2 separate regions of the Homo sapiens genome follow, and region 2 is linked to region 1. Evidence: fine-mapped expression QTL. Tissue or cell type: skeletal muscle. Region 1 holds a variant in brackets; the other region holds the start of a gene. All regions are shown on one strand. Distances are from middle to middle.

The links. PIP is the estimated chance that this variant, and not a neighbour inherited with it, causes the effect.
Region 2: it holds the start of SUPT3H, and the variant in region 1 is fine-mapped to the expression of SUPT3H in skeletal muscle (FUSION, PIP 0.95).

Annotation. Positions count from the first base shown.
Region 1 is chr6:44,829,200-44,834,620 of GRCh38, reverse strand. SUPT3H (SPT3 homolog, SAGA and STAGA complex component) reads left to right here. Exons shown (of 11, transcript NM_003599.4): 11 at 4,764-5,421. The coding sequence ends at 4,805. It overlaps LOC101929770 (a long non-coding RNA gene), which reads right to left. Exons shown (of 3, transcript XR_926855.3): 3 at 1,511-5,033. Among named protein-coding and RNA genes, the nearest start is that of MIR586, 370 kb to the left of the region's middle. The variant T/C (reference allele first, on the strand shown) is at 2,701.
Region 2 is chr6:45,374,995-45,380,415 of GRCh38, reverse strand. SUPT3H (SPT3 homolog, SAGA and STAGA complex component) reads left to right here and starts at 2,482. Exons shown (of 11, transcript NM_003599.4): 1 at 2,482-2,648. All of the region lies in intron 2 of RUNX2 (RUNX family transcription factor 2), which reads right to left. RefSeq lists silencers at 2,191-2,240, 2,561-2,840 and an enhancer at 2,007-2,550.

The DNA.
Region 1 (5,421 bases):
AATGGGGCCAGAGGAATTCACAAAGATACTTTCCAATTCCAAAGTTCTATTGTTCCTTGATTCTAGATGTTAGTAAAGGGTTTGTTCAGCTTGGTTTAGCAGGCTTAGTTTCCAAATTCCTTTTTCACTATAGTATTAAACATGTTGTGGCAGTCAGACAGACTGTGCTCCTAACAGTGGCATCTCAGCATCTTGGGGGCGGAAAGCAATGCCTAATCTACAGATAACCTAAAGTGAGAGATACAGGTAACCCATCTGCTGTGGATAAAAGCCACAATCTGAAAACTTCAATTTCTGCCTCTTCCATGTTAAATTTACTAAATGCCAAAATTAGAATTTCCATTAGGAAATATTTATTTACTCCATAATCATGACAGATTCTGAAAATGTTCCATTTATTGACGAAACCATTATTGGGTCCTGTTAATGATCTCCTCATCCATTTTACCACTGTTCTCAGCTCTCACTATGCACCTGGGATACTTCTAAGACATTCCAAAGCCTAATCTCCACTCAGACCCATTGGCTTTGAAGAACTGGAGCTACAGCATCTGTGTCTTTTAAAGCTCCCCAAGTGATTTGGGTGCAATGTTCTATACTATACACTATTCTTAAAGTTAGTTTGGAAAATAAGCAGTAGTTGAGAAAGCCTCCAAAGTGAAGATGATTTAGATTTAAGGTCCATTGTCTGTACTCGGAAGTATTATACCTGGCTGATTTAGCTTAAATTTGAAATAAAATTGTAATTTACCCTTTAAGTGATGTTTAGCAAGAACTGAGTTTGTTAGGACTAAGAGAATATGTGTATCTACAGTGCTCTGGGTGGAATTGGGGCAGGGGACTGTCTGGTTTGTTTTGTTTATTGTAAGACAATGTAGTATAATGAAAAGAACACAGGCCCTGGGTTTTAAATCCAAAATCTACTCTTTTACTAATTGTGGTAAGGCTCAAATTAGATACAGACATGAAAATATTTCATAAACCATAAAACCATGTATCTCAGCATTTTTTAATCTTTGCCCCTCCCTACTTTGAGAAATAGACAAATCTCATGCCTTTCGAAAGTGTAAGTAAGTTCAAATTAAATATTGTGATTAGAAGCAAAAAAACAAAAGCCTGCTTTGTTTTCTCCCTCCTTTCTCACTTTGAGAATGACCTCTCAGTGCATTTTACTTGTGGTGGTTAAAACTTGAATGTGAAACTGGAAGTTTAGTGAAGCCAGGGACTGTCTATTTATCTTAGTGTCCTGTTGTACCACCAAGCACACAGTGATTTACAGAATAAGAACTCAGTAAAAATTTGCTGAAATCATATTAAGCAAATTTATAGGAATTCAGACAATAGAACCAAAACCTCTTTCTTATGCCTTTGAGAAATAAAGTATTTGTAGGAGAGTTTGGGACTTACTTACTACAGTGAGATTCTTATGCTAGTTTATTTAAGATTTGAGAAAGCAGAAGAGAATCAGGAAAGGTAATAGAATAAAACAAGTCTGTACTGGAAGAAAGACTGGTGTTTATAGTTAATGTTTTAATAAGTAGGCTAATGGCAAACATAATACGCAGTAATATTTAAGTCGGAACTACAAAGTAAGTTTTGTAGCATGTGTCCTTTTAAGAAAAATATTAATCTTTTGCTTTTTAATATTCATTTGTATCCCCTAAGATGTATCAATTTATGATAACCCATAAAAAACAGAAGTAAACCACTATGGGATTTAAATGTTTTCTCTACCTTGTCCATATGAAGTAAAAAACAGTCACTTTAAAAAGTACACACTTAGAAATTAATTACCCCACAGTGCCCAGTGCAGTAGGTAAAATCTGTATCTGCTTATCCAGGTAGATTGACATTCTGGCACAGGTCGTAATTTGGCACTGTATGAATAAATGAATGTCAAAAATTGGGTCCTCAATTAAAAAAAATGGGAACTATGAATTCCTAATTTTATAACTAATTGGGCCTTAAACACATTAAGTATTGTCTTTGCTGTGAACTTTAAGAGATGCTAAAATGTCTGAGCTTTTCAGCAAATTCACAAAGGAGCAACTGATGTTGAGAACAGAGCTTTATTAAACCAGAAATGAACCTTAAGTAGTATATAGGCACGTAGGATCCAGTTTGTTGGGGAGGTCTAATTGTGTTATTGATTAAGCTATAATTTTCAGTAGTGGGTGGAAGTCCTGACTCTTTCTGGTCAAAGCCTGGATTTTACTAACTAGGAGTGTCTGTAAAGATAGATACAGAACTGGGAATCATTCATAGGGTCTGACAGAAGAAAGTAAGTGGGATACAAAGTATTCCATGAGAATGTGGCCTCTGGAAGGCCCTCACACCAAGCAATGTTTAAATTTAGTTTCAACATTTGCAACACAAATAGAGAGAAATTTACAGTTGACGTGAAGATGAGTTGTTGTCTTCATCCATCTTCCTGTAAAGTTGCTTATTCTGGAAAGCATGCCAAAGTTGGGACGTTCCCATAATTGCCCTACATAGACAATGTACATCCTTTGTACATCAAAAGGAAAAAGCAGTGACTCAAAATAGAGTACCCTAGGGAATATGTTTACTGAAATTGCTCTTCACTAATTACACATGCTTGTTTGTTCCTTCTTTATTTATTTCAGAATTCAAATGGGAAGAACATCACAGAAATCTGGGTCAACTCTAAACTTTGGTTTTCTCATAGGATCTGTGTTA[T/C]TAAATAAGTTATTAAAAAAAAATCTTTTGTTTGCAAAGCAGTGATAAATCATCTGTGAAGGTGAATCGATCTTTCAAAAGTGACCTTTTCCATGCTAATAAGAACTATTTTATATTGCCCCGTCTGAAAAGATTAAAACCTGGTTATTTCTCAGGTGAACTCAGCTAAGACTCAGTCTCCCTCTAAGCCAAAACCTCCTTTCTCAAGCAAGGCTCACTTCAACACTGTATGTTTAGAAGGAATGCAGCCTTACTCCTAGGTCCATTTAACTCCATATAAAACCATCCCTGTGCTTTAAATAATACATGATGTTAAAGATTGTCACTGTGGTTATAAAATTTAAAATATCAAGGTCAAGAAGCTAAGAGTATTACTTTGGCATAAGCCTCTCTGTAAGGCAGCCGTGGTGGTAGGAGCTGTTTGTTTCACAGACTGAGGCTCCACTGCCTGTGGTTGTGGGAAGACACCCTATGCATTCCTGCAAGTTATTTGTGGCTCTCTGAGGCATTCACTTAACACTGTTCTATAGCGCAATTTTAGGAAGTAGAGTTGGAATTTTCTAGTCCTTGTTAGAATGTTTTCTTCAATCCAGAAGTGTTCTACAACACAAAAAGCCCCATGGTAAAGAACAAGCTCACAGAAAGAACACTGAGGAATGACACTTGGAATGTGCCACTGTTTTGTCATCCCTGATACACTGATCTGGAGTGAACTGCATAGCAGCATAACTAAGCAAAGAAATTTCAGCCAGGGCGCCAAAGCCTGACAAGCACAGTAAATCTTCTTAAGCAGGATATTTGGAGAGAAGGTTTTCAAGTTAATTGAATTTTATGATTAAGAGAAGGTTATCTAGAAAACTATATTTGTTTCACCTCATGTTGATGGAAGTCTTTCTAAAAGGGTTAAGTCTACTTTCCATTTTTAGTATAATTAATTATAAATGTGGTTTAATTATTTTTTAAGATGAAGATTTCACTGCCTCCATAGCATTATCTTGATCGTAAAAGGTTATTCTGTATTTCTTAAAATATGGCTGTGGCTGTTCAAGGTTAATTCATTGGGCTGGAAGTATACAGACTCCAGAACTGCTTCAGAGTTATTAGCCTAAGGGGGAAAAATCCCTAACCTGAATTTTATGATTTTCTTTGTTTTTCTGAAAAGATTGACGGTTATGAATTCTCTGGATGTGACTGTTACTAGTTTAAATGATTAAAAATGTGCCAGGGAAAGGGAAATTTTATTCCTAAGTCCTGAATTTTAGTTCTGCTCCCCTCTGGGTCTTATGGTGGAATTCAGGATGTTACAGAGACCCTGTGTGATCCAGGTCTCCCAACACTGAAATGCAAAATATGTCTCTTGGAATGAAAAGCATGCAACTTTTCTTTCTTTACTGAAACGTATTAATTATTGCACTTAGAATCCATTTTCCCATTTTCTTTTATGGGAGTATTTTATCCCACCATGCATATCCATGTGTACATCTGTACGTACAGGTATGTATATAAAATTATATAAGATTTGCATTTTTGATACTGTCTACAATATGCAGAACTATACAGAACTCCTTTGAGATCATCATATTTTAGGGAGGAGGAGAGGCCTCTATTAGTGTCTGTTCCGACAGCTTTTCACTCAGACTATAAATTAGGCCCGGGAAGGGCCAGTAATGAGTCAGTAATTTATAGACTATTAAGATACTTAGTTAGTTAGAAGTGATTCCTGAGCATATCGAATAGAGAACACATGTTTATAAAAGACAAACAGATTCAATACATCTCTTTGGCCTAACCAAGCCCAATCAGTTAACAAAATGGGATGTCTTATTTTATGTATCTGCTACTTCCCAAAAATAGAATCACTAACCACTTGTTAACCACACTGACTTTTTAATAGACAGAATGGTTGCTATAGTTTTGCCACCAGAAATATTCAGATTAAGCATTCTATTAGATTGTAGCCAGCAGAGTCTACAAAACAGGAAGAGGGCTCTGCTTGCTTTTTGCCTCCTTTCCTTGTTTGACTTCATGTGATAATTCATTGCAGATTTCTTTTTCTTTGACAGAATGCCTACCGCAGGAATGGGATGGCTTTTCTAGCCTGCTGATGTGACAACTGTGATGTGCCTGCAACAACAGGAAAGGCAATGTTATATTAAGGTGATTTCTTGTGAACAAAATAAAATACAAATTTACCTTTCTTTTATCTGAGGGAGTGGGCTGGTCTGTTGTGACTTTCAACTTGCTGACTCCTCCTCTTTTCCAGCCCCTCAACCATCGGTCTTGTTTACTAGATGGGCTGTTCAGCTAATTAATGGCAGGATGTTTAGGATAGTCTGTAGGTGGACAAGAATGCAGATCACACAGTTTTGAAATTTTAATTTGAGTAGATTTACTGCCCTCAGCTCACATACCTTAAAAGCAGTGGTTGCCCCCGTCCAGCGTTTTGTCTGCATTTTATTTGATATATTTTATAATCCAGGTTTGGAACAAGGAAACAAAATTAAAAGGACAGTGAGTTTTCGCCTTCCCTTACACCACCAACTTTACTTTCCAACATTTGTTGACATGTGTTTTAGTGACAGCTATCCATTTTATAAACTTACAGTAATCAAAGATCTAACAGACCTGATAAATCACCTGTTCCCACCTCCTTTCCCCTTCACTCCACTTATAGTATGTGTCATTTTCAATGCCTGCTTCCCAACTTCCTGCCATCTGCCT
Region 2 (5,421 bases), 550 kb before region 1:
ATTACATGCCAGAGGAACGTTAAAGTCTACGCTAACAATGCTTCATTTTTCTTTAACAATTTTGTCCAGGTCATGGAGACATTTTTGTGGAGTGATAAATTAACTTGGTCTCCTGATGTGTTTTCCCCACATGCCTTGGAAAATCACTTGTTTTTCTGAGAGGTGGTAGTCATCAAAGCCTTAACTTCAGCAACAGCTTCGCTGTTTTAGCTTTGTTATAATTAAGATACCCTAGTACCATTGATAGTTTAGGATATTTGATATGAATGTAATGCAAAAATATTTTTGGCCCTTTGTATATAGCAATGGTCTCAAACTATGAGCAAAATTATGGCTAAATCAGATTTTCAAAAATGGATTTTAAGAAATTCCAGGAGGTAGGAACCTGGTTAACTCATGTGACTTTAAAAATCAGATCTCTGCCAACAGCCCAATTCAGTTTCCTAAGAATAAATTTTTAAACTTCCTGTATCAATGCCTTAACTCAGTTTCCCTTCTCCATGTGTCACTCTCATTAACTTTTGTTGTGCGTGATTTTTTTTTTTCTTTTTTTGACGGAGTCTAGTTCTGTTGCCAGGCTGGAGAGCAGCGGCGTGATCTCGGCTCCCTGCAACCTCCGCCTCCCAGGTTCAAGCGATTCTCCTGCCTCAGCCTCCCGAGTAGCTGGGACTACAGGCACGTGCCACCACGCCCGGATACTTTTTTGTATTTTTAGTAGAGACGGGGTTTCATCATGTTGGCCAGGATGGTTTCGATCTCCTGACCTTGTGATCTGCCCGTCTCGGCCTCCCAAAGTGCTGGGATTACAGGCGTGAGCCACCGCGCCTGGCCTGTGTGTGATTTTATGCAGGCTGGACACCAGTATCCTAGAATAAGATGATCTGGATTCTATCCTGATAAACTGGATCAAACAGGTACTCATCTGATGCAGGTGAAACTCCAGTGCAGGAACTTCTATGATAACATTAACTGAACATAATTTTAATTGAAATGATCTACTTTTATGTTTCTTTAGATGTGAACATTAATTTTTCTCTTAATCTTCTGTTAACTAATTTCTTGGTAATGTACTCAAAAGAGCTTTCAACCAGTCTTCCCATGTAAGAAGTTATCACCATACTCACTCTGTTACTTTCCCTTATACTGCACACTTTGCTCAGCAATGAATTGATCCCTGATTTACACATCAAGCTGAGCTCTCACATCCTAAATATATCTATTCTTTTGGAATTTTAGGTATTTGGCAAATATTGAAGCGTTGGGGAGATTAAAGAGAATCAAACACAACACTAGCAGACTCAACTACAATCCACAGAGGAAATAACCAAATAAGTTGCTATTTTAAACAATTTAAGCAAATAGAAGGAAGGGATTTCAGAACTCACAGTATCTATAGGCAAGAAAATAACTGAAGCAGTGATGCTTAAAAAGACTTGGTGAGGGTTAATACTTGAATCCCTATAAAATACAGTATTTTATAGTATTTGACAACACAGGTGTGAAGGTGAGCATGGATAACCAGTTTTCTTCTCTAAGCAGGCAATAAGAATGTTAAATATAAATAAGACTTCATATAATATAAAGAGTGAAAGACTGAAAGCATTGTCTTACGACTACTGTATTATTTAAAGAACTACATCTATATCAATTAAATGTGGCAGGACAGAATGTACAGTACAATACTGGGGGTGCAAGATTTTAAAATGAGGAACAGGCCAAAATCTAAACACAGAATCGTCCAAAAAAAAAAAAAAGCCTTCAAGTAGAAAAAGTTTTCAATAACAAAACATGGTAGTTAAACGCCTGCGTCTAGTAACATGAGTTGGGGAAAAAACATTAATAGCAGATTAATGAAACAGATTCTGTGCGAGGTCAGGGTAGGGAGTGATGGCGCGCGGAAGCGGCGTAAGAGCTGGTTTCGCCGTCCCAGAAAGGGTTCCACATCCACACGCCTGTACTGCGGCCCTGCGGGGAGCGTTCAGACCCCTCCGTTTCCCTTCACCATTGTAAACGCGCAATCCCATTAAGATCCCGTTCACTCCAATTCCTGGAAAGAAGCTTAGAACGGTGAATCTCTTCCTCGGAGTTGAAAATCAACTTCCAGTGCCGGTCACCCAATCCTTCAAAAATCCTAGCCCTCTCGGGCCCAATTCCTAAAGAATTCAAGCCTGCACCCTGTACACCCTGACCGATCTCAGCTCGTCCCCACTCCGCTCCCAGCGTCCCCAGCTCTAAACGCCGCCGCGTGGCTCAGCGCTGCCCAAGCCGGGCCCTGAAGGCCGCGCACAACGCCCCGCCCCCGGCGAGCGTGGCGGAAGTAGCTCGCTCGGGCTGGGAGAGCGCGCGCCACCTGGCCAAGCGCGCATGCGCCCGCACTGCCAGTGCGGGGGGCGTCCGTATCGCTTACTCCTCAGTCTCCGCAACCCCCGCCCCACCGAGAGTCGGGCTCACGCCATCTTGTACCCCCCCCATCGCCCCGTCACACAGCCGAGTCACCTTTTCCCTTTCTACACTCCACACTCTCAGTCCCCCACCCCGCCCCTTTCCAAGCGTGTCCCGGGCCGCAGCAGCAGAAACCGCACCATCTCCACCCCCACATTCTCCTCGCGGGAAGCGCAGCAGTGCCTCCAAGGGTTCTTAAAGCAGAGGTTGTAGGGCTTGCGGGGGGCGGTGCGGGGATTCGGGCGGGGGAGACGTCAGAGAGCCGGGAGGGACGCAGAGCGGAGATCCCAGCGTCGCTGGGCCCCCGCGCCGGCCACGCCCTGGCCCCGGCTCGAGGGCGGCTGCCTGGGTCTTCGTGGTCTACGCCGGAGTGTTGAAGGGAGGGCGGCTGTGGGAGGCGCTGGCCGGGCGCAGCGCCCTGGTTCCGCTGCCGAGCGTGGAGTTGCCTCTCGACTCCTCCCTTTTGGCGGGTGGGCGTGGGGTGAGGGGGGCTGGGCTGTGCTGAGAAGCGGGGTGCGCGGGTCGTCTAGGTAGTGTGGGGGCTGCCGGAGGAATCATTAAAGAGGGAAATTGTTGCTTTATGGCACGGCGAGAGAAGAGTTAGGTAGTTAGTGGGAGTGTAGCATCCAGAAAGAGGAAAAGATCCGCTGTGTTCTCTGTGGGGTGAGCTCACGTCTGTGACCCCTGGGGAAATTATTTAGCTTGTCTTTGCCTTGTTTTGGTCTGTAAAATGGCGATCTTATAGCCTATTTCAGAATTGTGAGGATTATATGAGAAAATACACGTTAAACGCTTAGAACAGCGCCAGGTGCTGCTCAGTACATATTAGCTCTGCTTTTGCTCTCCACGTTTTAGGAGTTCAGAATGACTGTGACCTTATTTTCTCAGAGAATCAGGACACTTGGTCTCACACGTGAGAGTGAAGTTATGAAGACAGTGATATGTAATATTTGACACTCAGACGATCCTGGACGTAGTATTACTGTACACGTGGATAAATTAGCATTTCTCCAAGAGGCTAATAGAAATGTTAAGTTATTTCGGTAGAAAGAAATGTGTGTGTATATATATGTATATACATATGTGTGTATATAAGTATATGTATGTGTATATATGTATGTATGTATTTGGAAGGAGAGGACCTGGGGTCTTAGTATATGTGAAGGGCAGACTCTGGAAGAGGAATTAAATTCGCCCTGCAAAGATTTACTTGAAGGACAAAACTTGGGGAATTTCTGGTGAATGTTTCAAAGAGGCTGAATTTGCCTATGAGAAACAGTTCGTGAGAGTACTTTGCAAGAATGGAATGCTCTTCATTGTGCTATGGAAAGTTTCTTATCTCAGGATATTCGGGACGTTGGAGCGAAGTATGCCTAAGTCTAGGGCTGCACTTTTCACTAGCAGTTTCTGCCTTGATGGAGATGTTCCATAATCTGTGCCTTTAGGCACTAGTGGTAGCCTAGGCACAGTGGCTCTTCAGCACTTGAAATGTGATAAGTGTCACTGAGGAACTTAATTTTTAATTTTATTCATAAATTAATAAATTGATTTACGTTTAAATACCCACATGTGGCTAGTGGTAGCTACTGCATTGGACAGCACAGGGCTACAATTTAGATTTTGAGAGTCCTTCCGAGTCTTGATATGGTTGAGTTTTAAATCAGATAAGCCAGCTCTTTGGAACATTTATTGCCATAGGGAATTGTAATTATATTCAAATAATGCCTTTCATTCAAATACTGCAGTTCAGACCATGGGTCTGTTAGTACTTATTTACATCTTGACAAATTAAAGCAAAACGTTGTCTCCTAGGTTGTACAGCTAATGCCAGATTCAGAGAGCTATGACAGTATTAACTGGAGTTTTCTTTAAACATTATTGTACTATTTTGTGATTGTCGGTTTCTGCTATCTTTTACCACTTTGGTTGGTTTTTCAGTGAGAAGTTTCCAGCTCTTATTCAAGTTTTTTTCTTTTTTAACCTTTTGTGTAATAAAGCGATTTGAAAAATTGTAACTCTTGAGCATTAGGACATTTTAGAACTAGTTTTATGGTTATCCAAATCTTTTGGAGAGATAAGTGAAATTAGGTAATAGATGTTTCACAAAATTACTTTACTTGAAATATGTGCATCTGTTTTTTTTTTTTAAAGCAAGTGTATATAAAGTCAAATTTGAAAATAAAACTAAAAGAACAAATAAAAAACCTTTATAGGTAGCGGTAGCACCCTTAACCTTGGCCTGATGTCTGTAAAATGGTGCCCTTGGGCCAGGCACGTTGGCTCATGCTTGTAATCCCAGCACTTTGGGAGGCTGAGGCCAGAGGATCTCTTGAACCTAGGAGTTCAAGGCTGCAGTGAATCATGGTCAGGCCAGGCTTCCAGCCTGGGCTGCAGAGGGAGACCTTGTCTCTTTAAAAAAAAAAATGATGCTCTTGGTCTTAAGGCTGAAGATAATTGTTAGATCTGGAGCAATAACTTAAAGCTCACGAGTTAAATCAGATGGAGAGAATAGCTCATAATATACAAATCAGAATGGGGTGCTTTTATGGGTGACTATAGTATCTTAATTTTTCTGAGACAGTCGTAGTATAAAGCCTGATTGTTCCAGCACAATTATTTTATTTAATAGAACCCCTTTCACTATCAAAATGTTCGAATTGGGACCACATCATAATGTCACCCTACTGTTAGCCTTGTTGGGACTTGTAATATATAGTTTTAGGATGATTAACCACATTGCAATATCAGAAATACTTTATTATTTTTGAGATGGAGTTTCACTCTTGTTGCCCAGATTGGAGTACAATGGTGCGATCTCAGCTCACTGCAACCTCCCCCTCCTGGGTTCAAGCGATTCTCCTGCCTCAGCCTCCCGAGTAGCTGGGATTACAGGCACATGCCAGCATGCCTGGCTAATTTTTGTATTTTTTGTAGAGACAGAGTTTCACTATGTTGGCCAGGCTGGTTTTGAACTCTTGA